Linked DNA regions of Homo sapiens. The protein of the gene in region 7 interacts with the protein of the main gene of each other region in a pairwise test. Each region holds a gene or a part of one and is shown on either strand. Other genes may lie near its edges.

Region 1 (3,500 bases), on a different chromosome or scaffold from region 7:
TGACTGATTCATTTTGGAAATCATGGGCCAAGCCACTATTACCCAAACTGATGAGCTCAATCCCTGAGTACCTTTAAGTGATGAGGAACATTGAGAAAATACATAAGCCACTGTGCCCCAATTTAATTACATAGTTCATACAACATGGCTACAGAGACGAATGATATTCTAGTAATAAGTTACTGGGTTTGTAGCAATATGTAAGTAAATATCAGAGCCACACCAGAGAGCACAACAAGTTGCATTTATTGTTTCTGACAAGTGCATAGTAATTTTCAGTTTGCTCATGTTCCTAGCATCACAAATCTGAGTTACAATTTTGCTTCTCAATGAAAAACATATACTCTGAAAAGTGATTAGGAAGTTCTAAAAATTTTAATCATTTATAGAGTATCTTAAAAATCCTTATCAAGTAAGATATTAACTTTACCTTTATAAATCTTTGTGTGAAATGAAAAAAAAATCAAGGCATACAAATTTCATTGTGTTCTACATTTTTAAATACCATCCTTTGTCTCCGTTAAAAGATTTTCATCCATTTATTCAAAAACCTTTTAAGTTCAACTGTCCAATTTAAGACAGAGTGAAGACATTTTTGAGTATCTGAACTAAGCATTGTCTTGACTGAAACGAAGTAAGAACTCAATGAGAGTCCTTGTGGGCCTCCCAGTCATGCCTTTCCGTAGATAGGGAACTTCATCTTTGTTGGTCATCACGCCTGCTATGTCTAAATGTGCCCACTTAGGATGAGTTACGAATTCTTTCAGGAATGCTGCAGCTGTACATGCTCCTGCAGATCTGAAGAGAAAGACAAAAAGCACTTTACAACCCCATGTAAATGTGCACTGAGATCCCACATTTTTGCTAAGTACATTCTATAACCAAAGAACAAGAGTCAAGCTTGTAAGACCTATTAAGATGCTAACCCACATATCAGTTTCAGAATATTTATTTTCAGATATTGCTTTAAGCAGTAAAGGATAAATTCTATATTCCTTTTTGCTATGGTAATGAATTCCCATATTTTCCATCTCTTTCCCTTACCATTTATTGAAAATTACCATTAGATTAGAAATATGCAAATTTTGAAATCTGGTTGAAGAAATACTTGAAAATTCAAGACATTAAAAATCTTACAAGCACTACACCAAAAGGAAATTAAATAGTTAAACCTTTTATATAAGGGGATAAAATTGAAAATAGCTATTTTGGCAATCAAGGATGATTGTATAAATGTACATTTAGCTTAGCTTACATACCTGTATTTTCCAATGTTGTTAACATCAGCAAGCTGGCAATCTACAACCTGTCTTGTATAATGTTCGAAGAGAGGCATCCTCCAGACACGGTCCCCTGTTTCAATGCTGGCCTAGAGAACAGGTATGACAGGTGGAAGAGTGGATGAGGCAGGTTGTGGGAAATTCATGGCATTAACATGCTCAATGCATGAAGGAAGAGTTGTTCTAACCTGTTACTCTAAAACATGAAACTAGAAAATAGGTTTCAGAATTGTGTCCACTCATTAAAAGATTTATTTTAGAACTATAAAAGAAACCAGGAGGCTGGGGACAGTGGCTCACGCCTATAATCCCAGCACTTTGGGAGGCCGAGGCGGGTGGATCACGAGGTCAAGAAATCGAGACCATCCTGGCCAACATGGTGAAACGCTGTCTCTACTAAAAATGCAAAAAATTAGCTGGGCGTGGTGGTGCGCGCCTGTAGTCCCAGCTACTCCGGAGGCTGAGGCAGGAGAATTGCTTGAACCCAGGACGGGGAGGTTGCAGGGAGCCAACGGAGTGCCACGGCACTCCAGCCTGGCGACAGAGCGAGGCTCCGTCTCAAAAATAAATAAATAAATAAAAAATAAAAAGAAACCGGGAATGCTGTGAAGCAATTTCACAAATCTGTAGGGCATTTTGCTAAAATCATCAAACTACAATTACAGGCTTTGTGGGTTGATGAGGGTGAAAGAGTTCTTATGTGGCGGGTCACTTCTATGTGACAGAAACACACGACTGGACCTGTATCACTGAAATCCTGAGACAGGATGACCACATTCATTCATTCATCACTTACCCACTCACTCATTCATCGTTTACTGAACTACTGAGCACCACCAGGTGTGCTGAAATACTACCATCTGAGCCACCCAAGGGCCTACAGGCTAGTAGGAGAAACAGATACATAAACAGATTATTTAACTCACTGGTAAAAAATCAAAGACCTAAAAGTGAAAAATCAAGAAGCAGCAATATAAGCTGTTATTTTAAGACATAAGTAAATACCAGATGAATCAGCCAAGGGTTGAAAGTGGCTGCCTTCTGGAAAACAGACTGTGGGCTGCTGATTGTTGATTTATGCACATATAACTGAGATTTTTTTTTTAAAGCTTAAATGTTTTTTAAAAGTCAAAACAACAATATTGTGGGTGCCATGAAAGAGAGGGATAACGGTTATGTGGGAGGCCAGAGGAGAGGTTCCTGGCCCGGCCTGGAAGAAGATGATGGGGCTGAGTATTGCAGAACTGGGAAAATTGGGCTTCGTGAATGATGACATATATGAAGGAGAAGCAGTTTAGAGTGAAAATAAGTTTAGACCTTAAACCACCCTCAGGATTATATTTGGGGACATTTTATGTTTGTCTCCCCTCCCACTGGCACAGAGTAAGCTCCCATTAATTACTAGTTGAATGAATGAGTAAGCAGCCAGCTGGAGCTGTCTAGCAGCCACATGGGTACACAGAGGCTGGGACTCGGGAGAGAGATGGGAGCCATCAGGCAACATGTGTTGGCTGGAGCTTCCATGTGAGGAATGTGTAGAGTAGGAAGAGCCTATGGCCTTGAATTGAACACCAGCCAAAGGGCGGCCAAAGGGAACAAACACGTCAGGAGACAGGAGCAGGAGAATCACAGGAGGCAGCCCAAGAAAGGATTATCACAGAAGCTGAACCAGGTGTCAGGAGGCCACAGAGTCACCTGCTGCCTCAAGACAGGCTGAGTTAGGCTAACAGTGGTGTGGACATTCGAAAACCAATGGCAGTAAGTGAGGGTGTGTGTGTGTGTGTGTGTGTGTGTGTGTGGAAGTGAGGGTGACTGCTGGGAAGAGGCTGGCTGTGAAGGGCATGGAGGGAGGCACAGAGCACAGCGGTCTGAAGACATCCTCATCGATGCAGGGTGAACTCCCTTATATGACTCACGACACGCAGTCACAAACGCTGCTCCACAAAGCCATCTTCAAAACCATTTCTACCTCAGGGATTCTAAAACTATGACCACAGTGTTCGTGAGATATTTTCACAGGACGCTGAGGCTACCGGAGGGGAGCAGGGGGCATCATCCCCTCCTTTAGGAGCATTTGTGGAAAACCCAATGCCACTGAACTCAATCTATTGCTGTGGTTCATTTTCAATTCAAAGGCAAACCTGCGGCATAAAAATCACTTTAACACAGGGTTGAAGAAGTCTATCCTTCTAAGGCTAGAATAATTTATTCACCATCTCT
Region 2 (3,500 bases), on a different chromosome or scaffold from region 7:
ACTTAGCTGTTGATGACCATCATGACTTGTACAGGAATCTAATTGGCTCTGTGTTACTTCCTCTGAATTCAGTTTTATGTTACTAATTCCATCAAGTATTTCACTATGATCCTTATCACTTGTACCAGAGCTATCATTATCAACCATAATAGGTGAAGATGGAAAAGATACTAAGTCAACTTTCATGCATTTTTCATCGTTCTTGTCATCAGCTTCTGTTTTAGATGTGTAAGTATCTGTATCACAGCTTTGCGAGGCATCAAAAGTCCAACCCTGAGCTTCCCAATACTGAAATTGTTCCAAATAATACCAATAAAGTTGACTATAATGTTGCTCCCATTCTTCCTTTGTATCAGGAAAGTTCCAAGGTTCAGAAGATAGTGCTTGACCCGGATGTTTTTCTTGCCAACTTTGCCACAATAGTCCTCCTCCATATTCATTCCAATACTTTTCCCATTTCTCTGTAATTTCTAGCTTTGGAGATAATGTGTTTTCAACTGGAGGATTTTCTGTCTCAGTATCTTTTTTGCTTTGAAGTTCATATGTTCTGGTGTTCTCATACTGTTCAATTGAAGATGGATCATCTGAAGCCAAAATGTCGTCTTCTTCATATTCTTTTCTCCAAGATTCTTGCACAATTTCATCTAAGTATTTCTTTTGATGTTTTTTCTTTTTTATTTTAACTTTATTTCTAGTATTCATAGATACCTATATCAGATAAATAACTTGAATATAAAATGCACTTTATGAACTATAAAAGAAAGTAGAATCCAAGTCTATTTTGACATTAAATTAAACAAAATACTCTAAAGCCCCACTATGGGCTTTTAGCTCCACAAACAAGTGATATACTATCTAAGTTTCCAAGAGGAGGAACAGTCACACTTGGGACATATTACAACTTTCAGTTCTGGTTAATTTATAAATACATACATTTAAAAAGAGGTAGAGAGCGCTGATCGTGAATGCATATAATCTGATAAAAAGTAATTCCTTGCGATATTTTATAAAGAAAACGAAGAGAGAGAAATAATAAAAGTAAATTAATATTTACCTCAAAATCCTTATGTGCAGTTATCCTACCAAATTGAAGTGGCAATCCCATACTTCTCATGAGTTCAGCCTCAGAATCAAGTTCACTTTCATCCAGGCCTATGCCTTTGCTGTCATGTGATTCTGCAGTACCACAGGAATAACCACCTTCCTCTTCTTCTGTCGCCTGGTCTCCTATAGACACCATTTATTAGCTTAGTTTTAAGGAAAACTTAAGAGGCAGGTTTTCTTATTCTCATTTAAAAAAACCTGAGATCCAGAGTGACCCGCCCAAAATAAAGGTATGCAAATGTTACAATTTTTTTTATTTTTTAGAGATGGGGGTCTCACAACACTGCCCAGGTTGGAGTATAAGGGCTATCTGCAGGTGTGATCATAATGCACTAAAAAGCTCTGAACTCCCGGGCTCAGTCAGTCCTCTTGCCTCAGCCTCACAAGCAGCTAGGATTACAGTTGCATGCCACCTTGCCTGGCCTGCAAAGTTACAATTTTTAAAGGAAAAAAGAAAACAAACAAACAAAAAAACAATTGACGGTATGCTGGGCACGGTGGCTCACACCTGTAATCCCAGCACTTTCGGAGGCTGAGGCAGGCGGATCACTTGAGGTCAGGAGTTTGAGACCAGCCTGGCCAACATGGTGAAAACCCGTCTCTACCAAAAATATAAAAATTAGCTGGGCCCAGGCTGTAATTCCAGCTACTCAGGAGGCTGAGGCAGGATAATTGTTTGAACCTGGGAGACAGAGGTTGCAGTGAGCCAAGATTGTGCCACTGCACCCCAGCCTGGGTGAGAGAGCGAGACTCTGTCTCAAAAAAAAAACAAAAAACAAAAAACAAAAAACACCAATTGACAGTAATATGGAGTAGTAACAAAAAAAGCCAATGAAGAATCAACGGAAGAATCAATTTCTTATTGGGCTCTGCCTGCCACTATTCATCCAGCTGCCCATTTAACTTACTCTTATTGAGCATCTGCTCTATGTTGGGCACTGTGCAAAATACTGAGGATGGAAGGAAGACAGAACAGGCCATGTAACCCTGGTACGTGGAGAAAATACTTATATGTTCACATTCTTTATCTGCAAAATTACTGAACTAAGACAGTGAATTTAAAAATCATGATTTGTGAAGTTATTTTAGGAGGTATTAACAAGAGCGGGTGAGAAGCATGTCTTCATGCCCCTCACAGACACTTCAATACAACTGGGATTTAGGTTCCGGGATTCTGTGGAAGAGCTGATTTAACAAAAGGATTCTGCTATTAGAAGTTTGAAATCCTGGGGTTGGGCACAGTGGCTTATGGCTCTAATCCCAGCATTTTGAGAGGCTGCTTGAGGCCAGGAGTTTGAGATAAGCCCGAGCAACACAGCAAGACCCTGTCACTACAAACAAAACCAAAAACCAAAAAACAAACTACCCTGGTGTGGTGGTGCCTGTAGTTCCTGCTACTTGGGAGGCTGAGGTGAGAGGAATGCTTAAGCGATCACCACTCAGACAACAGAGCAAGACCCTCTCTCTCTCTCAAAAAGAGAAAGGTTTGAAATCCCCTAAACTGGAAGATTTTTTTCAAGCTCTCTGAATCTAATTCTTATAGAAAAACCATTTATTACAACAAAGTAAGTTTTACTTTACACCAATATGGTTATCTAATAGTAATTATACCATTAATTGAACATATGCCATTCAAGTGCTCTATTAACTTTAAAATGTGAGATAACAAAAAATCATTTTATGTATTAGCACACTCAATTAGCATTGGGCTGCACTCCAGCTTGATGGTCTCAGGCAACAGAACAGTAAATCTTATATAGCCAAAATGAAGACTGATAAAGAGAAATCTCTTGTGTGCAAATTCTGCTACAAGAGGGAGAAAGATACCTTTCTAAATAATGAAGGGGATTCCACTCACTACTCCATTCAAATATACTTACGAAAGCTCAGGAGACAGCAAAATGGAGAAAATGAGTAAGCTAAGTTTTATGTTCCTTTCATTGTATGCATATTTTCTTATGCTCGAGGAGCCTAGTGTTATAGGAACTTTATTTGTATAGCATAGCACTGAAACACAAACCAAACATTCCATCCAGTGATCAACTGAAGAAACAGTAATTTGTTCCATCGCCATGAGAGTTAAAGGGTTTCCGAAGGTAACTATGACACTGTACTTGGGCTGACTTTGGCTTCTAACTCCACGCTGTAATTTTCTCTGTGTCTAGGAACACAAAAGGTCTATGTGGAAGGACAAATGCAGTAGGGAAGTTTGAGACATCAAAGTGAGGCTCAATGTACAGTATAAATTATATTTGTTACTTGGGAAAGTTAACCAAGATGACAGTCTCTTTACTTCAGGCAAAAGACTATAGATGTTCACCTGGAATTTTTATCCCGTAGCATTTTTTTATCCTGCAGCATTTACCTACATAATACACTTCTCATGAAGTGTATTA
Region 3 (3,994 bases), on a different chromosome or scaffold from region 7:
TGCCACCTTGCCCAGCTAATTTTTGTATTTTTTGTAGAGGTTTCGCCTCTACAAAATGGGGTTACACCATGTTGCCCACACAGGTCTCGAACTACTGGGCTCAAACAATCCTCCTGCCTTGGTCTCCCGAAGTGCGGGGATTACAGGTGTGAGCCACCGTGCCCGGCCTCTATTTTTTATTTTATTTTTTATTTTTTTTAAGGGCAAGAAACCTTGGTTATATAGAACACACACAAAAAGATATGATTTGGTATTTTTAAATGTCCTTTGCTTTGCCTCATCCATAGGAAGAAATAAAACTTTACATGGTTATCTCATCACAAATCTGTGAGGGAGGCGCTATTTTTTATCCCTGTTTCACCAATGAAGAAACTGAGGTTCAGTGAGGTTAAATCACTTGCCAAAGGTCACCCAGCTAGGCGGCACAGGGCTGGACTTCACATCCACATCTGACTCTGCAAAGCCAGTGCTTTCTAACAGCCCCCCTCCCCACCCCTGAAGCTGTGTACATGTTTTCCTACTGTAAGGTGGTTTCTCTGAGAGCAGAGATCATGTGTGGCCCATCTCTGTATCCCACTGCAACTGCCACCATTGTCACTCCACACAGGAAAGTACTTGGGAGTGTGGGTGTGGCACATTTAGAATTCTAGCAGTGAAGTCTGATCATATGTGAGCCATGAACCCCTATGAACCATGTGGGCTTTCCCTTTCACTAACCGACTGGGCACAGTGGAGTCTGCAGCCTATGGTTTCAGGATAGAGAGCCTTAGCTTCTACGGACAAAGTTTCCCTCCCCAGCAGACACTTTCCAATACTGCCTATCTCTCAGGGCCACACCACCATCCTCTACATCCCACGCCCATCTCTCACCATCCTTATTCTCCTTCCCAGGGCAGTGCGGAAGGACACAGGTGTCAGGCATTTTGAGATCTTCAGAGAAGGGCAGGGCTGCCATCACCATGGAGTATTAGAGCTGGAAGGGGCCCAAGGGCTCATGCAGTCTGTTCCTTGGTTTTACCCCTCTCATGATGCTGCTTCACAGTCACACTGGCCCTTGGTCTGGCCAGCCACATAGCTAGCCTGGCAGCAGTAGCCTCAAATCAAGGGGGGAGGCTGGCCTGTAATTGTTACACTCTGTGATGATTATGAAGTCAGCTCATTGCACCTGCAGACTGTCCAAACTAAAGGTGGGCCACTGCCCCCACAGTTTCTCTCTGCTTCTGGTCAGCTGGGTTGTCCTGCATGGTGACGGGTGTCATCCCGAACAAATCAGATGGCATCAGAGGCACTCCATCAAGTGGGAGATGGGGAGGAGGCTGTACTGAAGAAAGAAAACTTCAACATGATGAATGCCCTTGACCAACTGCCAAAACCCTTTTCAAACCCCAAGTCTATGAACCGGACCGTCACTACCAAAGGACTCCCACTAGCCTCAAAGGGCAATTTGGTCAACTTCTTGGAGGATGATACCATCAACCTACTGTAAGTCACAAATCTGGTCCCTCCCTCCCTCCCTCCCTCCCTCCCTTCCTTCCTCCCTTCCTTCCTCCCTTCCTTCCTTCCTTCCTTTTTTTTTTTTTTTTTGACAGGATCTTGCTTTGTCACCCAGGCTGGAGTGCAGTGGTGCAATCTCGGCTCACTGCAGCCTTGAATTCTTGAGCTCAAGTGATCTTCCCACCTCCACCTCCCAAGTAGCTGGGACTATTGACGCGCCACCACCACACCTGGCTAATTTTCATATATATATATATATATATATATATATATATATATATATATATATATATAAATTTTTTTTTTTGGTAGAAACGGGGTTTCACCGTGTTGCCCAGGCTGGTCTTGAACTTCCGGGCTCAAGCGATCCTCCCGCCTCAGCCTCCCACAGTGTTGGGATTATAGGCTTGAGCCACCATGCCTATAGTTTCTAAGAAAGGCTGGAGCCGAGGGCTGGGCAGAGAGACAAAGAATCTATACTTCCCTGACTTGTCACAACCCAGTTCCTTGACTCCCAGAGAAGAGCGTGTGGGCAGGTTGGATCTATTTATGTATTCCTGAGCCCCAAATCACTTCTTGGAGGCATATGGAGCTCCCACTCCAGGAGGCCTTCTTGGATTAGTCAGTTTGTTGACAGTGCTCCTTATCCTGCCTTGACTGGCTGTGGTCCTCACCATCACCAAATCCCTGACACACCCATGGCTCCTCTTCCTCAACCCTCTCTCTTTGGTACCTTCATCTACCTGACTGCTCCCCAGTAGCCTGCCTTCCTTCGGACTGGGTTTTGCTGTTCCTCCTCACCAAGTCTGGTTTTCCTCTACTTCATTCCACAAAACTCTTTGAGCACCTGCAAGGTGTCTGTCCCAGTGTTTAAGTTCTGGGAACGCAGAGCTGGAAAGCACAGTCCCTGCCTTTAAGGAGCTCCCAGTCTGGCATGTGGAGGTCAGGGGTGAAAGGATGGGGATCATGCAATAACCAGAATGATATAGCATGGTCTGGTAAGTGCCAGGACAGGATGCCTTGAGGGACCAGAGGGGCTTAGTATAGCTTGAGACTGGGTGCAGTTGAAGGAGGCTTCTTGGAGGAAGTGATATTTGAGCTGAGTCTCCAAGGAAGGAAAGGAGTTAGCCAGTGAAGGGGTGGTGGTACAGGGTGATGTGGGCTGAGGGAATTACTTGCAGGTCACCCACCACATGGGTGAATGACCTGTGCAGTCACAAATAGCCCTGCACTTACAAGGGGCCTGTGCTTAGTTTAATGCTTTTCTGTTACTATCTTCAAATTCAGAATTTTTGAATAAGGGGCTCAGGGTACTTCAATTTGCACTGGGCTCCACAGACTACATAGCTGGTCTTGAGTATGTGAGAGGGATGTGGTGTCCATTCCCCAAAGTGCCCGTAAGCAAGCAGGTATGGCTAAAGTGATGGATGCTCGTAGGAAACTTCATGGTATACTGGGAATCTTGGACTAGAAGCCCAAACTCAGATCCAAGTTCTGCCACTTAGAGATTTATGGTCTTAGACAACTTAATTAAGATCGGAGGCCAGATGGGGTAGCCCACGCCTGTAATCCCAGCACTTTGAGAGGCTGAGGCGGATGCATCACTTGAAGTCAGGAGTTTGAGACCAGCCTGGCCAACATGGTGAAACCTCGTCTCTACTAAAAATACAAAAATTAGCTGGATGTGGTGGCACGCACCTGTTGTCCCAGCTACTCAAGAGGCTGAGGCGGAAGAATCCTTTGAACCTGGGAGGTGGAGGTCGCAGTGAGCCAAGATTGTGCCACTGCACTCCAGCCAGGGGTCTGGGAGACAGAGCAAGGCTCCATAAAAAAAACAAAACAAAACAAAAAAAAAAACAGATCAGGGACCCTCAGCCCCTTGTTTGCCAAATGGGGCTAACATCCATCCAGCAGAGCTGTTGTGAACATCAGGAGGAGGAGATGTTCAGCATGTAGCCAGTGCCTAGCGGCCTTCTGTGCTTGCTTCAGTACCAGCATTTGCAGTAAGTGAATCTGAAATATTAATTCATTAGGACAATCTAAAGCACATATGACATTAATACCCAGACTCTTCAGTCTACAAAAGACCTTGGTGGGGGAATCATTTATTCCAAATGTCCACCAAGCGCTAGCATAGGGGATCTGGGCTAATCAGGATTTCTCAGGAGGAGGCTGATGAGGCTGGAACCTGGGGAGGAAAAACTTGGCCCGTTCATCAACCAAGACCTGGGAGGCTGGATGGGAGTAAGGGATCCACAAACTGTGGATTGTGACCTATTAATGGGTCAAGAAGTCCTTCTAGTTGGTGAAGACCACTATGATAAAAATAAACTGGCTGGGTGCAGTGGCTCACGCCTGTAATCCTAGCACTTTGGAAGGCCAAGGCGGGCAGACCACGAGGTCAAGAGATCGAGACCATCCTGGCCAACATGGTGAAACCCCTTCTCTACTAAAAATACAAAAATTAGCTGAACATGGTGGCCGCACCTGTAGTCCCAGC
Region 4 (3,500 bases), on a different chromosome or scaffold from region 7:
ACTCAGTGACCACAAGGGCTCGCAGAACCTATGAGTTTACAGCAGCCTATGATGGAGGAAGCATAGGTTTACCTCTGGTTTACAGAAGTTTGTGAAAGGGGATGAACCACCCAGGCAGGCCAGCACCAGCCACCAGGACCAGGGGCTCCCCTGCTGTGGAACACAGGGGTGCACTGACCTGGAGCTGGAGAAATGAAGAGGTGTTGGTGTCAATTGTTAGGGAAGCAGATTCTTCTATGCTAAATGCCAGGCTTGAAACGTGGCCATATGCCACCCATCCATCTGTTCCAGGTGGAATCTGTGTGTCCATGGCCACACAGAGGCTGACTTTGGTAATCCACTCTGGAGATACTCAGGAGTGGGGCAGTGTGTCCAGTGGTTCTGGCCATCCTAATGGTTCAGGTTTCCTTTGCAATTTATGCTGATACTTTAGGAGCACTTGACACCTGGGACCAACTCACAATGATGAGGTCATCAGAGGGCTGGTCAGTAACCTGAGAGATGACCTGAGAGCTGGTGCATATTCTTCCAGTACAAATCCAATCATGGCGACCCATTGCTGAAGAAAAGGCAAAACTCCTTCACAGGCTCTGGCCCCTTCCTGCCTCTCCAGCTCCTCCCACACCAGCTCCCCTCCCTCTCAAGATCCCACCACATTGGTCATGTTTCAGTTCCTCCTACTTTTCATGCTCCTTCCTGCCACAGGGCCTTGGCACATGCTTCTCCTATGTAGGAGACTCCTCTGTCCCTTTTTCATCCAGTTACCTCCTCAGCATTCTTCAGAGCTCTGCTCAAAAGCCATCCTGCCCCCACCATTATACACTACAGCACACTATCAACTTGTCTTGGTTACCATCTTACATTCCTTCCAGTGATTGCCTGAAGAATGCTGCTCTTCCCATCTAGACTGTAAGCTCTATGAGGGCAGGAACTACATTTGTTTTTTCTGAGGGCCTCCCTATACAGTGCCTGGAACCTAAGGAGTTTAGTTAACATTTATTGAATGCATAAGTAAAAGTGCCCCTCTGGCCCAGAGCTGCAGCCTGAAGATAACCTGGACAACTTGGCCTCATCTGGGTGAGGGTGTTGTATTGGTAAATGGGCATCATCCTAAAGACTTCTCTTGCCCACTGGACTGACATGGGGTTGGCAACCGCAGCAATATAGACAGTGGCAATTATGAGCTTATATTTCTGTATAGTACAATTTAAATACATTGGATTATTTCCAATAGGCAGCTGTTAGGGGGTTAACAGCAGTTAACACTTTCAGCTCTAGTCAGAATTGTTTGCTCATAAACATAAATCAAGGACCTTTTTTTTTTTTTTTTTGAGACAGTCTCACTCTGTCGCCCAGGAGTGCAGTGGCGTGATGATCTCGGTTCACTGCAACCTCCAACTCCCAGGTTCAAGCAATTCTCCTGCCTCAGCCTCCTGAGTAGCTGGAATTACAGGCACCTGCCACCACACTCGGTTAATTTTTGCATTTTTAGTAGAGACGGGGTTTCACCATGTTGGCTAGGCTGATCTCGAACTCCTGACCTCAAGTGACCCACCCGCCTCAGCCTCCCAAAGTGCTGGAATTACAGGCATGAGCCATTGCACCTGGCTGAATTGACGGCCTTCTATGGGCCCAGTACTGTACTAAGAATAGCGGTACTCAGCCCCTGACCTCAGAGACATTATGATCCTAACAGACGGACAGAGACACACTGGATTCTACTGCATGCACACTCCATGATGCAGTGTTAACCATATGCCAAGCACAGTGCTGGGTGCCTGGGAAACCAGAATGAGGGACTTGGAGAGGAGACAGCCACAAACACAAGAAGTAGCAATGAAGTGAGAAAAGCAGACCAGAGACTGTGGGAGGGAATGCAGAGGGGGAGCCAGCACTCCTGGCTATGCTGCTGTTAAATGTGGGTCAGAGGACAGGAGCGCAAGAGTGAGTTAAACCTTCCAGCTTTGAAAGGGATGCCTGGTGCTTGGGCCTGGGTGTCCTAGCCCCATTCTGACTGCAGCTCTGCTTCCTTGTACAGGTCTGTTGTGGGCATCCCGACCTGCGAGTCCGTGGTGCAGCTGCAGCCGGGGCGGAGCTACATTATCTATGTGCGAGCCCTCAATATGGGGGGCCCCAGCGTGAGGAGCGAGCCAGCTACAGTCCACACCATAGGTCTGTGCCCCAGCCCACAAAGTCTCTGGGACCCAAAGTGGCCACTCTGTGGCAGACCCAGTGCTGCTATGACTTCACTGGGAAATTGATGAATATGCACAGATGTGGACACGTGGCAAGTCAGGCCAGAAGGAGTTCAGGGGTGTCCCATACTGCCCTAATTGCAAGTCAAATGGATCATTAAGAAGTCCTTCAATTCCTATTTCCCTTGGCAAATAGGTTAGAAATTCTTATCCATACACAGGCATTACAGCTAGAGGTAAAGAGCACAGCCTCTGGAATCAGAGGGGCTTGGGGTTCAAGTTTAAGTTCTATCATTTGCCAGCTGATTTCTTAACCACCTTGTGCCTCTGTTTCCTCATCTACAAAATGGAAATAGTGACACCTGTTTCTAAGGGTCGTCGTGAGGATTGAAGGGGATACTAGGCACACAAGACTGCCCGATGAGTGTCAATTGCCATCCTTGTTAACTGGACGCCTATTACTAGGCCAGGTCCAGGCTTAGGTGTATCCCACACGAAGCTAAACCGGTGACCACCGCCCACATGGAGAAAGCAAGTGATTGGCTGCGGGTCTTCTGTGTGTTCCTCCTCCCACAGGAAGCTACTTTCGCCTAAACAAGGACACTTGCCATCCCTGGCTGACCATTTCTGAAGACGGACTTACGGCTGTACGAAGTGAAAGGAGAACCCCCGCCAGGGAGCTGTCACCCAGCGACACTCACTTCACCAGGTACTTTGTCAACCGCTCACAAGGGCGTTCTGTGAACTTCCCGAAGGTGCACTGTTATTCAGGTCAAATCCGAATATGGCACGGAGGCAGCCTCGAGGGAAAAGGAATCCTACAAATGAGTGAGGAGGGAGGAGCCTAATGGGGAGGGGACCCAGAGGAGTGTGGGCAAGAGGGGTCAGGCAGGTGCAGGCAGAAGAGCCCCCTGGGACGGTGAGGTCAGGAGAGGGCGCGGTCCCCTGGGAGGGCATGGTCCCTGGGTCCTAGGCTGCCAGAGCTGGAGCAGCCAGAGGTCATGAGGGTGGGACAGGAATTACTAGTGGAGGGTGTCCAAGTTCTTGGCGTTCTGAACAAAGAATTGGACAAAATGCACAAACAAAGCAAGGAAAGAGGCCAGGCACGGTGGCTCATGCCTGTAATCACAGCACTTTGGGAAGCCGAGGCAGGCAGATCACCTGAGGTCAGGAGTTTGAGACCAGCTTGGTCAACATGCTGAAACCCCATCTCTACTAAAAATATAAAAATTAGCCGGGCCTGTTGCGGGTGCCTGTAATCCCAGCTACTCGGGAGGCTGAGGCAGAAGAATTGCTTGAACCCGC
Region 5 (3,500 bases), on a different chromosome or scaffold from region 7:
TCCAGGCTGAAGCTCCAAGCAGATGTATTTGAAAGGTAACAGGTCTGGAGACAGGTTATGAACTTAAGAAGGTGTTCCAAGGATCCGAGAGAGCTGTGGGGAGTCTGGAACACAGGCAGTAACAGAAAGGAAGGATGGAGGCCAGGTACTGTGGCATATGCTTTTGGTCCCAGCTGCTCAGGAGGCTGAGGCTAGAGAATGCCTTGAGCCAAGGAATTAGAGTCCAGTCTGGGCAGCATAGCAAGATCCCATCTTGAAAGAAAAGAAAAAGAAAGAAAAGAAAGAAGAGAGAGAAGGAAAGGAGGGACAGATTGATTCTACACAGGAGGCAAAACTTATAGAATTTGGGAAGTGACTGGATGGAATGGGAGTGGTTGTAGATGAGGGACAGGTCAAAGATGACTCCCAGCATCCTAGTTCTTAAGAGTTTTTTTTGTTTGGTTTTTTTTTTTGAGACAGAGTCTTGCTCTGTCAACCAGACTGGAGTGCAGTGGTGTGATCTTGGCTCATTGCAACCTCTGCCTTCTAGGTTCAGGTGACTATCACACTTCAGCCTCCCGAGTAGCTGGGACTACAGGCACATGCCAATACATCTAGCTAATTTTTGTATTTTTAGTAGAAATAGGGTTTCACCATGTTGGCCAGGCTGGTCTCGAACTCCTGACCTCAAGTGATCCACCCACCTCGGCCTCCCAAAGTGCTGGGAGTACAGATGTGAGCCACCACGCCTGGCCTAGTTCTTGAGTTTCTTACTGTTTTTCATCATACCATCAACCCTGGGATCTGAAGCCCATTGAAGGATGAGGTCAGAGGGGAAGAAAAAAAAAACCCTCCTAGTTAAAAAAAAATGTAAGTTTGAGACAAAACTTCCCCCAAGCATACTAATTCCTGAAATGTCCCTTCGGCTACTAAGTCAGTTTAACAGAGAATGGACCATTCTCCTCTTCCCATTTCTTCACTGCTGAGCAATCTATGGGTGTCCAAGGAAAACGGCATGATTTGATACTGGGGCTTACTCTGCTCTCATTATCTGGGACCCTAGGGTAAACTCCTAGGGTAAGGCTCAGGGCTGGGGGGGTGGGGGGAGCATCCTGGGGTATCTAAGTGGGGTAACTGAGCAGCCTGGATGCCTGGGTTTAGAACTGCCTACCTTCATTGTTTTGTGATGGAGCCAGCAGCCGCGCAGTGTGATCCAAAGACGCCTGGTGGAGGGAAACCCGAATTGGCTTCAGGGGGAGCCTCCCCGGATGCAGGACCTGATTCATGGCCAGGAGAGCAGGAGGAAGACCAGCAGGACAGAGATTCCAGCTCTTCTGGTCAACTGCAAGGTGAGAGGCCTCCCAGGGACACACTTTCATTAACAACCCTGCCTGCACTCACTTCACCTGCTCTCCTTTCTGCTCTGCCCTGATGGGAGAGGGAGGGAGGGAGAAAGGGCACCTCTCTCCCTAGCCTGGACCTAACCAGGATCCTCTACCTCCTTCCTCCCTGCCCCAAGCCATGTCTCCTCGGTGCAACTCCATCTGTCACCACCATTACTCTGCCCCCCTTCCTTGGTCAAAATACAATACTTAAATTAAGTAAGTACTCCTCAGTGTGCTCTACACAGACAAATGGTGTGTGTGCATGGATAACGTAATTCTGGAAAAAACTCATGTGTTCTAAGGCATTGGCCCTGTAATCTCTGGAACCACTTAACCACTCAGTCACTATTGAACATTCGCAATAAATTCCCACTGGTCCTCGGCCACCGTCTTTGCTCTGTGCTTCTTCTATGTGGATTGCTCTTCTTGCTCTCCAATCATTCTGGGTCCGCATTCTGCAAGCAAAAGCCCAGCTCAGATGTTACCTCCTCCTTGAAACCTTTTCTGATTTCCCCAGTAGGAAACAGCCTTTCCTCCCTCCCAACCTCTAAGGCATGTTACTCACGTCCTTTTTTTAAAAAAAAAAATTTTTTTTGAGACAGAGTCTCGCTCTGTCACCCAGGCTGGAGTGCAGTGGCATGATCTTGTGTCACTGCAGCCTCTGCCTCCTGGGTTCAAGCGATTCTCCTGCCTCAGCCTCCTAAGTAGCTGGGACTATAGGCCCACACTACCACACTTGGCTAATTTTGTATTTTTAGTAGAGATGGGGTTTCTCCAGGTTGGTCAGGCTGGTCTCAAACTCCTGACCTCAGGTGATCCATCCACCTCGGCCTCCCAAAGTGCTGGGATTACAGGCGTGAGCCACCGCACCCCTCGACTTTTCCGGTCCTTTTGTTTATTTTTTAGAGACAGATTCTTACTCTGTCACCCAGGCTGGAGTGTAGTGGCATGATCAGAGCTCATTGCAGCCTCAACCTCCTGGACTCAAGCGATCCTCCCACCTCAGTCTTCTGAGTAGCTAAAATTACAAGTGTGCGCCACCACAGCTGGCTAATTCTTTTTTTGTATTTTTAGACTACCACGTTGGTCAGGCTGGTCCTGAACTCCTGGCCTCAAGCGATCCTTCCACCTTGGCCTCCCAAAGTGCTTGGATTATAGATAGGTGTGAGCCACAGGGCCAGGGCATTCACATCCTTTTATAGACCATAAAACTTTCTGCCATATAGTAGAGTTATATTATACTTCCTTTAGACTCCTGAAGAATAGCATTCATTGATATACCTTCCGGTAACATATCTTATAGTAAATACTCAATGAATGTTTGGAATGAGAAAACGATGTGTGTGTATATCCAAGCGTATATCAAAATGTCTATGTCCCAAAGTAGGTGAAGTTGTCTTCCTTTGTTTCCAATAGCGAACTTCTTGGTTACTCATATCTGAGTTTCCTAACAGGGATTCCAGTCTTCTCATCCTTCCTCTATTCCTAACCTGGAGTTTTCGAACCAGGAGGCCATCAAACTCCCAAGGATTCCTCTAAACAAACAAATCACCGTTTCTCCATTTCTGGCAGATCTTCCCCAAACTTATGAACCCATCACATATAACCACTTTTTTTTTTTCCATTTTATTTTTTGTAGAGACAGAGTCTTGCTATGTTGCCTAGGCTGGTCTTGAACTCCTGGCTTCAAGTGATCCTCTTGCCTCCAAAGTGCTAGAACTACAAGCATGAGCCACCGCACCTGGTCCACTTCCTTTTTTGATTTATTTATCTGGGAGTTCTGCCCCTATTGTATGAGTCTCATAAAAACCAGTTTTTTTGTTTGTTTTGAGACAGAGTTTTGCTCTTGTTGCCCAGGCTGGAGTGTAATGGCGTGATCTTGGCTCACCACAACCTCCGCCTCTCGGGTTCAAGCGATTCTCCTGCCTCAGCCTCCCGAGTAGCTGGGATTACAGGCATGCGCCACCACACCCAGCTAATTTTGTATTTTTAGTAGAGACAGGGTTTCTACTAAACCCTGGTCAGGCTGGTCTTGAACTCCCGACCTCAGGTGATCCACCCGCCTCGGCCTTCCAAAGTGCTGGGATTACAGGCGTGAGCTACCGCGCCTGGCCCCGATAAAAGCCAGTTTTAAAG
Region 6 (3,500 bases), on a different chromosome or scaffold from region 7:
TTGATTCTCCGACTCTTGCCTCGAATCTCACTCATCCCAGATGAACTCCTTTCTCTGGCCAGGTGGCTGGTGTCCTGACTCAGACCCAGCCCCCCTCGCCCTCAGCTCAGGCTTTTGTTCTTGCCATTCTCCCCATGTGGAGAGCCAAAGTCACTGAGAATGGCTCCTCTTCAGGGTGAAGGTCCAGCCAAGTCCCCTCTTCAGAGGCACTGGTGACTGCGTCCTGCCTCCCAAGCTCCCTCTTCTTCGTGGCTGTTGCGTCTGCTCTGCATGGTCTCCCTTGATCACACTTGATCTCAGAGCACCCCATGATTTCGTGCCTGTCCCATGGGCCAGCTCTGTGCACTTCTGACTGTGCAGTGCCTCATGCCGGGAACAGATGTTACAGTGAGACAAGCTCCATACGAGCCAGCCATTGCTGTCCCCCAAGCCAGCCAAGGCCGGGCATGTTTCCACACTCACCAGTGGGTTCGTTCAGTCAACAGGAGGCTGGGATGAAACACTTCACCTTTTGAGAGAGAGTATAGTTACAAAAATCTGTATCAGAAGTGGCTCCATTTTGACTCAAGCTGTGTGTAGCTGTGAGTCCTGCCTACCAAGCATTCACACTGTAAGACAGGAAAAGAGAAAGGGGAAAAGTGTCTGCTGTTCCCCGATGAAGGGTAGGAGGTGTCCCCTGGCACGCAAAGCCCAAGCGTCCCTGAAATGTCTGCTGGGCCCCAACAAAAGGTAGGTGCCCCTGGCATGCAAAGCCCAAGTGTCCCCTGGCTGTTGAGCAGAGTGTGAGCTCAGGGCCTGGCATTGTCCACCTGGCACGCAAAGCCCGAGCGTCCCCTGGCTGTTAAGCAGAGTGTGAGTTCAGGGCCTGGCATTATGGGCTTGTGTTTTCTTCCAGAGACACCACCATGTATGCTGTGTCTGCTGATAGCAAAGGCTTGGACACGGTGGTTGCCTTACTGGCTGATGTGGTTCTGCAGCCCCGGCTAACAGGTGTGGATCCCAGCCGCTGGCGTTTGAGGTGGGCTTGGACATAGGGAAGACCGGAAAGGTTTGCAGAAGCCCTGTAGCCATGAGGGAGAGCACCATGTAATTGGAGCTTTAGGCCAACACAAAGTGACAGCGAGATCTCATAAGAAATAGCGCTGGGGCTGGGCATGGTGGCTCACACCTGGAATCCCAGGACTTTGGGAGGCTCAGGCAGGCAAATCGCTTGAGCCCAGGAGTTTGAGACCAGCCTGGGCAACATGGTGAAACCCTGTCTCTACAAAAAAGATACAAGAATTAGCTGGCTGTGGTTGCTTACACTTAGAGTCCTAGCTACTCGGGAGGCTGAGGTAGGAAGATCGTTTGAGCCTGGGAGGTTGAGGCTGCAGTGAGCCATGATTGTGCCACTGCCCTCCAGCCTGGGCAACAGAGTGAGGCTTTGTCTCAAAAAAAGAAAGAAAGGAAAAAGAAATAGTGCTAGTAGCCAGGCGTGCTGGCTCACGCCTGTAATCCCGGCATTTAGGGATGTAGAGATGGGAGGATCACTTCAGCCCAGGAGTTCGAGACCAGTCTGAGCAACATAGCAAGACTCTGTTCTCCACAAAAAGGAAAAAAAACCCACTGGTGATTGTAAAAGTCCTTAGTGTTTGAGAGAATGTGTATTTGAGACATCTGTGCCCTCATCCCTGTGGGATGTTTTTAGCGAAATTGGTTCTTTGATTTCGGAAGGGCACCTCGGACCGTCTTTAAACAAGTGGAATGGTGTGTGCCAGAAATTTCCATTTCACTGTTTCCATTACCCTCCTCAGCCTTGCAGATGGCAGGACTTTGAGTCCCTGTCAGGGGTGGACCAGGAGAGGGGAACGTTGGCTTTTCCAGATACCCTAAGGGTGCAGTTTCACAGCAGCTTGCGCTTGGTGTTCAAAGGCTACAGTCCCACGTTAAGATCTTGTGGTCACAACTGATGAAAGGCGCCCTTGACATCTGTCTGTGCCTCTGTTTCTTTTTGGAGATAGAGTCTGTCTCTGTCACCCAGGCTGGAATGCAGTGGCGCGATCTCGGCTCACTGCAACCTCCACCTCCCAGGTTCAAGTGATTCTCCTGCCTCAGCCTCCTGAGTAGCTGGGATTACAGGCGCCCGCCACCGCGCCCAGTTAATTTTTGTATTTTTAGTAGAGATGGGGTTTCACAGTGCTGGCCAGGCTGGTCTTGAACTCCTGACCTCAGGTGATCCACCCACCTCGGCCTCCCAAAGTGCTGGGATTACAGGCGTGAGCCACCGCACCCAGCGTGTGCCTCTGTTTCTAAGCACCTTCATGTCTGGTCTCGTGTCCTCACAGCAGCACTTGGGACAGACAGGTCCAGTGTCTTCGGTGCCTTTCACCAGCAAGGAAGCCAGGGCTTAGCAGGCTCACGTGGCTGCTTCATGGCTGAGGCGGGATGTGAGGCCCAGGTCCCCTAGCTCCTGCTCCCTGTAGCAGTCCCCCTCACTCACACAAGCACCCAGTCTGCCCCTAGATGAAGGCAGAGGTGACTGCCAACAGCCACCAACAGGCGACACTCAGGCCAGCACACAAGCTGTGGGTCACTGCTGTGTTCCTCATCTCTGCCTGTGCAGACTCAGCCCTGGCCTTTGGGTTCTCTTGCAGATGAAGAAGTCGAGATGACGCGGATGGCGGTCCAGTTTGAGCTGGAGGACCTGAACCTGCGGCCTGACCCAGAGCCACTTCTCACCGAGATGATTCATGAAGTAAAATGTCAAACTCGAGAATGCCCCCGCATCTCGAACAGTGGTCCTCGGGACACCAGGGGTGGTGGGGAGGGTGCCTCCGTGATGTTGTCCTTGCAGGTTATGGATATATACAGAACATTTTTTTGTTTTTTGAGATGAGGTTTCTCCACATTGCCTACGCTGGTCTTGCACTCCTGGGCTCAGCTCAGGTGATCCTCCTGCCTCTGCCTCCCAAGTAGCTGGGATTACAGGCGTGAGTCACCGCACTCAGCTTAGAACATTCTTGATTTCTGAGTCTGCTGTTTATACAATGTTCGTATTTTCCAGTTTTTATAGTAACTAGGTCTTTACTACTAAACACAATTAATCTTAGGCTTTTTGTGAATTTGTATTCTGGAGAGGCAGATTTTACTCTTTATAAATACGCACGCAGCTGCTATTGCCAGAGTGCAAGTAAAATATCAGCTTGCGTCGGATTTTCCCAGGGCTGGCTGCAGATGGGCGCTGGTGCTGCTTGTTGGAGGAAGCCTGGTCATGCTGTCTTCAGTCACCTGTGTCTGTGGCTCTTCCCCATTAGGCGGCTTACAGGGAGAACACAGTTGGCCTCCACCGTTTCTGCCCCACAGAAAACGTAGCAAAGATCAACCGAGAGGTGCTGCATTCCTACCTGAGGAACTACTACACTCCCGACCGCATGGTGCTGGCCGGCGTGGGCGTGGAGCACGAGCATCTGGTGGACTGTGCCCGGAAGTACCTCCTGGGGGTCCAGCCGGCCTGGGGGAGC
Region 7 (3,500 bases):
GATAAAGACCAAAATCCTCACCCTGACACTCAAACCCAGAGTGCACCAGCCCTGTCTTTCTCTCTCCAGTTTCCTCCTGCTCATTCTGCCTTCACTCCCAGGGCTCTAGCTCCTAGCAGTTCCTGGAATGTGCTGTTCTTTCTTCCCCCCAGCTCTAGGCCTGCACATGCTATTCCTTCTGCCTGAAGTACTGAACCCTCCCTGCCATCCCTCTTCCCCCAGCTAAGTCTACCTCATTCTTTACCTCTCAGCTCAAGCATCACTACCTCAGAGAAGCCCTCCCTGAGCCTGATCTCTGTTTGTAATGATCAGTTCATCACTGATGGCTTGTTTCACTTCTGTTTCCCCCTCTAGACTCTAGGAGAGCGGGGACTGTGTCTGACTTTGTTCTGTCTTGTATACTGCACACCTAACACAACGCCAGGCATGCAACAGTCACTCAAGAAACCACCTGCGGAAGGAATAAATTGTTATTCTTCAGCACCTTAGGAGCTTCATTCTAAAATATTAGTTTTTTTTCCTGGTCTTGGATGATATCCTCGGGTCCTATTTAAAGCCCTAAGACTTTGTGGCTGTGCTGGAGCCAAGGCCACCATCAAAGTCCACGTCACTGATCTCCAAGGCTCACCTCCCAGTTGCAGACATAGCTGCTCCTGTGGTCTGCACCAGGGAAGGTGGGCAAGGCTGCTAATCCAGGTGAGCATGTGTGTACCATGGAGATGACAGCTCCCATGTCTACACCCCAGTTGTGTGCCATCCCATCCTCCAGTCCTGCCACCCCATCCTCCAGTCCTGCCTCCCATCCTTCCCCGAGTTGTGATGATGGTGACCCTACCTCTGGGTGTGCGGTGTATGTAAGCCATGCTGCCATCTTCCAGCTGCACAGGCTGACCATCCTCAAAGGAGAGAGCTTCTGTAACGAGAGCAATGCCTGCCTTTCCCTGGAGCTCAGTGCCATGGAGGGGTCCCTTGGTGGGGGCTGTCAGGCTTCCCTCGACAAGGCATGGTGTGTTGGGGTGCCCTCACCTTTCTGTACCGTCACCTGGTGAATGTATGCGGTGGTCCCATCCTCGAGCTGGATCACCTGCCCTTCAAGAAGCTTCTCTCCTGTTAAGAGTGGAAATAGAGAGAAATGGGCCAGGACCAGAAGAGGGCTAAGAAACGCCTGCCTGTTTTTAGCTGAGGCTTATTTGAGTCTCTAGGCACGAGCCTGCAGGTCTAAGCATGGGTAACATCTTCCTTGTTCCCTTGCTCTGTCTCCCTGGGCCTGGGCCTTGAGACACTAAGGGTGAAGACACTTGCCTTGCCGAACCCATCACCTCCCAACAGATTCCCTTCCAGTTACTAACAGGAGGAATAACTTCACTTATTATTCTACCCATGCCCAGCCAAGTGGAAACTTCCAACCTAATAGTAAGTTGCTGAGACTTGAACTAATGGCCCTTAAACCTGGATGAGCCCCAGTGGGTCAAAATTCAGATATAGCTCAAACTAACAAAATCAAAACATATCCCCTCATCCCTCACTATGACAGTGTGCTAAGACCAGGAGCCCCTGTGAAGGCAGGATATATAGCTTAATGGTTAAAAACAATAGACTCTGGAACCAGGCCAGGCCTCCAGAGTTTGAATTCCAGCTCTACCTCTTAACAGCTGTGTGACCTTGGACAGCTTATTTAACTAACCTCTCTGTGCCTCAGTTTCCTTTTCTTAAAATGGGGATTGAAAACTGTGTCTCTTATAGGGTTGCTGTTAGGGTTAAATGAGTTAACGAATATAAAAAACTGGGAAGAGTGCCAGGTATATATGGTCAGCCCTCAATAAATCCTAGCTTTTATTATAAGCCCAATATGCATTTTAGAAGAAATGGAAAGTAAAGCAATAGAGAACTATGTGAGCACAACTATTATGCTATTATGTGTCCATGAAGGTCTTATTCCACTGCCACTGTTGAGTAATGTTCCTTCATTGACCTCTCATTTTTCATTTCAATTTTCTAGTAAAAAATTAGATCACCTAAGGCAACACAACAAGCAGCATAAAAATTAACAAGCCTCCAGATTTCCTAAGATATTACTCTTCCTTTACCTTACTGGAAAGCACTTCTAATAAGGCTCTTGAAATTAGAACTAGACGACCCTTCCTTGTGTCCAGTGAGTCTGACAGAGGGGGAAGGAAGAAGAGAAATGAGAAAGGAAAGAAAGGGAGATTGAAGAGTTAATGATGGTCAGATTCGGTGGCTCATGCCTATAATCCCAACACTTTGGGAGGCCAAGGCGGGTGGATCGCTTGAGCTCAGGAGTTTGAGACCAGCCTGAGCTATGTGACAAAACCCTGTCTCTACAAAAAACACAAAAATTAACTGGATGTAGTAGTGCATGCCTGTGGTCCCAGTTACTCGGGAGGCTGAGGTGGGAGGATTGCTTGAGCCCAGGAGGCAGAAGTTGCAGTAAGCCGTGATTATGCCACTGCAGTCCAGCCTGGGTGACAGAGTAAGACCCTGTCTGAAAAAAATAAAAAATAAATAAATAAAAAGGCTGGGCACGGTGGCTTACATCTGTAATCCCAGCACTTTGGGAGGCCAAGGCGAGCAGATCACCTGAGGTCAGGAGTTTGAGACCAGCCTAACCAACATGGTGAAACCCTGTCTCTACTAAAAATACAAAAAAATTAGCTGGGTGTGGAGGCAGGTACCTGTCGTCCCAGCTACTCGGAAGGCTGAGGCAGGAGAATCACTTGAACCCGGGAGGCGGAGGTTGCAGTGAGCTGAGATTGTACCACTGCACTCTAGCCTGGGTGACAGAGTGAGGTCCTGTCTCAAAAAGAAAAAACAAAAAAGTAAGGCTGGGTGTGGTGGCTCACACTTATAATCCCAGCACTTTGGGAGGCTGAGGCAGGCGGATAACCTGAGGTCGGGAGTTCGAGACCAGTCTAGCCAACATCATGAAACCGTGTCTCTACTAAAAATACAAAAAAATTAACCAGGCGTGATGGCACATGCCTATAGTCCCAGCTACTCGGGAGGCTGAGGCAGGAGAATCGCTTGAACCCGGGAGGCGAAGGTTGCAGTGAGCCGAGATCACGCCACTGCACTCCAGCCTGGGCTACAGGGTGAGACTCCGTCTCAAAAAAAAAAAGGAAGAAAAAATAAAAAAAAAGTTAATGACAAGTGATTTGTCCTTTCCTTAGAAGATTGAGGTTTAGGAAACTGAGCGCTCAGGTGGGAAAGACAGTTACTTCCAGCCCAAGTCTCTGCTGACGTCTCCCCTTTAGAGGAATCCCCAAACTTGCTCCCAAACTGAGTCTTCTTGGGGTCAGTAACTAACAGTCCTACAACTAACCAAAGGCAGGTAAGGTGGAGATAAAGGTAAGAAATAGGAAAGGCAGCTGAGATGGGGGGAAGATGAACCCATTTTCTTCCCTCCCACCCACAGAGCAGTAGGCTACCCTCATTTTAACAATTTATCTGTCCTGGCAAGGGCATCAGTACTTGGGGTTCTG

Evidence for each region.
Region 1: the proteins of ZNF76 (region 7) and LAP3 interact in binary tests that used the Homo sapiens proteins (3 or more experiments, as listed by UniProt).
Region 2: the proteins of ZNF76 (region 7) and TGS1 interact in binary tests that used the Homo sapiens proteins (3 or more experiments, as listed by UniProt).
Region 3: the proteins of ZNF76 (region 7) and FNDC8 interact in binary tests that used the Homo sapiens proteins (3 or more experiments, as listed by UniProt).
Region 4: the proteins of ZNF76 (region 7) and FSD2 interact in binary tests that used the Homo sapiens proteins (3 or more experiments, as listed by UniProt).
Region 5: the proteins of ZNF76 (region 7) and NRIP2 interact in binary tests that used the Homo sapiens proteins (3 or more experiments, as listed by UniProt).
Region 6: the proteins of ZNF76 (region 7) and PMPCA interact in binary tests that used the Homo sapiens proteins (3 or more experiments, as listed by UniProt).

Annotation. Positions count from the first base shown.
Region 1 is NC_000004.12:17,604,698-17,608,197, reverse strand, and holds the end of LAP3 (cytosol aminopeptidase), read right to left. Parts: intron 1,370-3,500; coding exon 1,260-1,369; intron 799-1,259; coding exon 609-798; 3' UTR 228-608; downstream 1-227. UniProt on the Homo sapiens protein: Cytosolic metallopeptidase that catalyzes the removal of unsubstituted N-terminal hydrophobic amino acids from various peptides.
Region 2 is NC_000008.11:55,783,446-55,786,945, reverse strand, and holds part of TGS1 (trimethylguanosine synthase), read right to left. Parts: intron 1,228-3,500; coding exon 1,055-1,227; intron 709-1,054; coding exon 1-708. UniProt on the Homo sapiens protein: Catalyzes the 2 serial methylation steps for the conversion of the 7-monomethylguanosine (m(7)G) caps of snRNAs and snoRNAs to a 2,2,7-trimethylguanosine (m(2,2,7)G) cap structure.
Region 3 is NC_000017.11:35,120,421-35,124,414, forward strand, and holds the start of FNDC8 (fibronectin type III domain-containing protein 8), read left to right. Parts: upstream 1-1,194; 5' UTR 1,195-1,273; coding exon 1,274-1,482; intron 1,483-3,994.
Region 4 is NC_000015.10:82,764,570-82,768,069, reverse strand, and holds part of FSD2 (fibronectin type III and SPRY domain-containing protein 2), read left to right. Parts: intron 1-2,038; coding exon 2,039-2,172; intron 2,173-2,771; coding exon 2,772-2,904; intron 2,905-3,500.
Region 5 is NC_000012.12:2,828,536-2,832,035, reverse strand, and holds part of NRIP2 (nuclear receptor-interacting protein 2), read left to right. Parts: exon of another isoform or gene 1-252; intron 253-1,150; exon of another isoform or gene 1,151-1,175; coding exon 1,176-1,328; exon of another isoform or gene 1,329-1,819; intron 1,820-3,500. UniProt on the Homo sapiens protein: Down-regulates transcriptional activation by nuclear receptors such as NR1F2.
Region 6 is NC_000009.12:136,413,658-136,417,157, forward strand, and holds part of PMPCA (mitochondrial-processing peptidase subunit alpha isoform 1 precursor), read left to right. Parts: intron 1-895; coding exon 896-990; exon of another isoform or gene 991-1,018; intron 1,019-2,633; coding exon 2,634-2,734; intron 2,735-3,293; coding exon 3,294-3,500. UniProt on the Homo sapiens protein: Substrate recognition and binding subunit of the essential mitochondrial processing protease (MPP), which cleaves the mitochondrial sequence off newly imported precursors proteins.
Region 7 is NC_000006.12:35,283,735-35,287,234, reverse strand, and holds part of ZNF76 (zinc finger protein 76), read right to left. Parts: intron 1,110-3,500; exon of another isoform or gene 1,108-1,109; coding exon 1,027-1,107; intron 914-1,026; coding exon 836-913; intron 805-835; exon of another isoform or gene 261-804; coding exon of another isoform or gene 245-260; intron 1-244. UniProt on the Homo sapiens protein: May be involved in transcriptional regulation.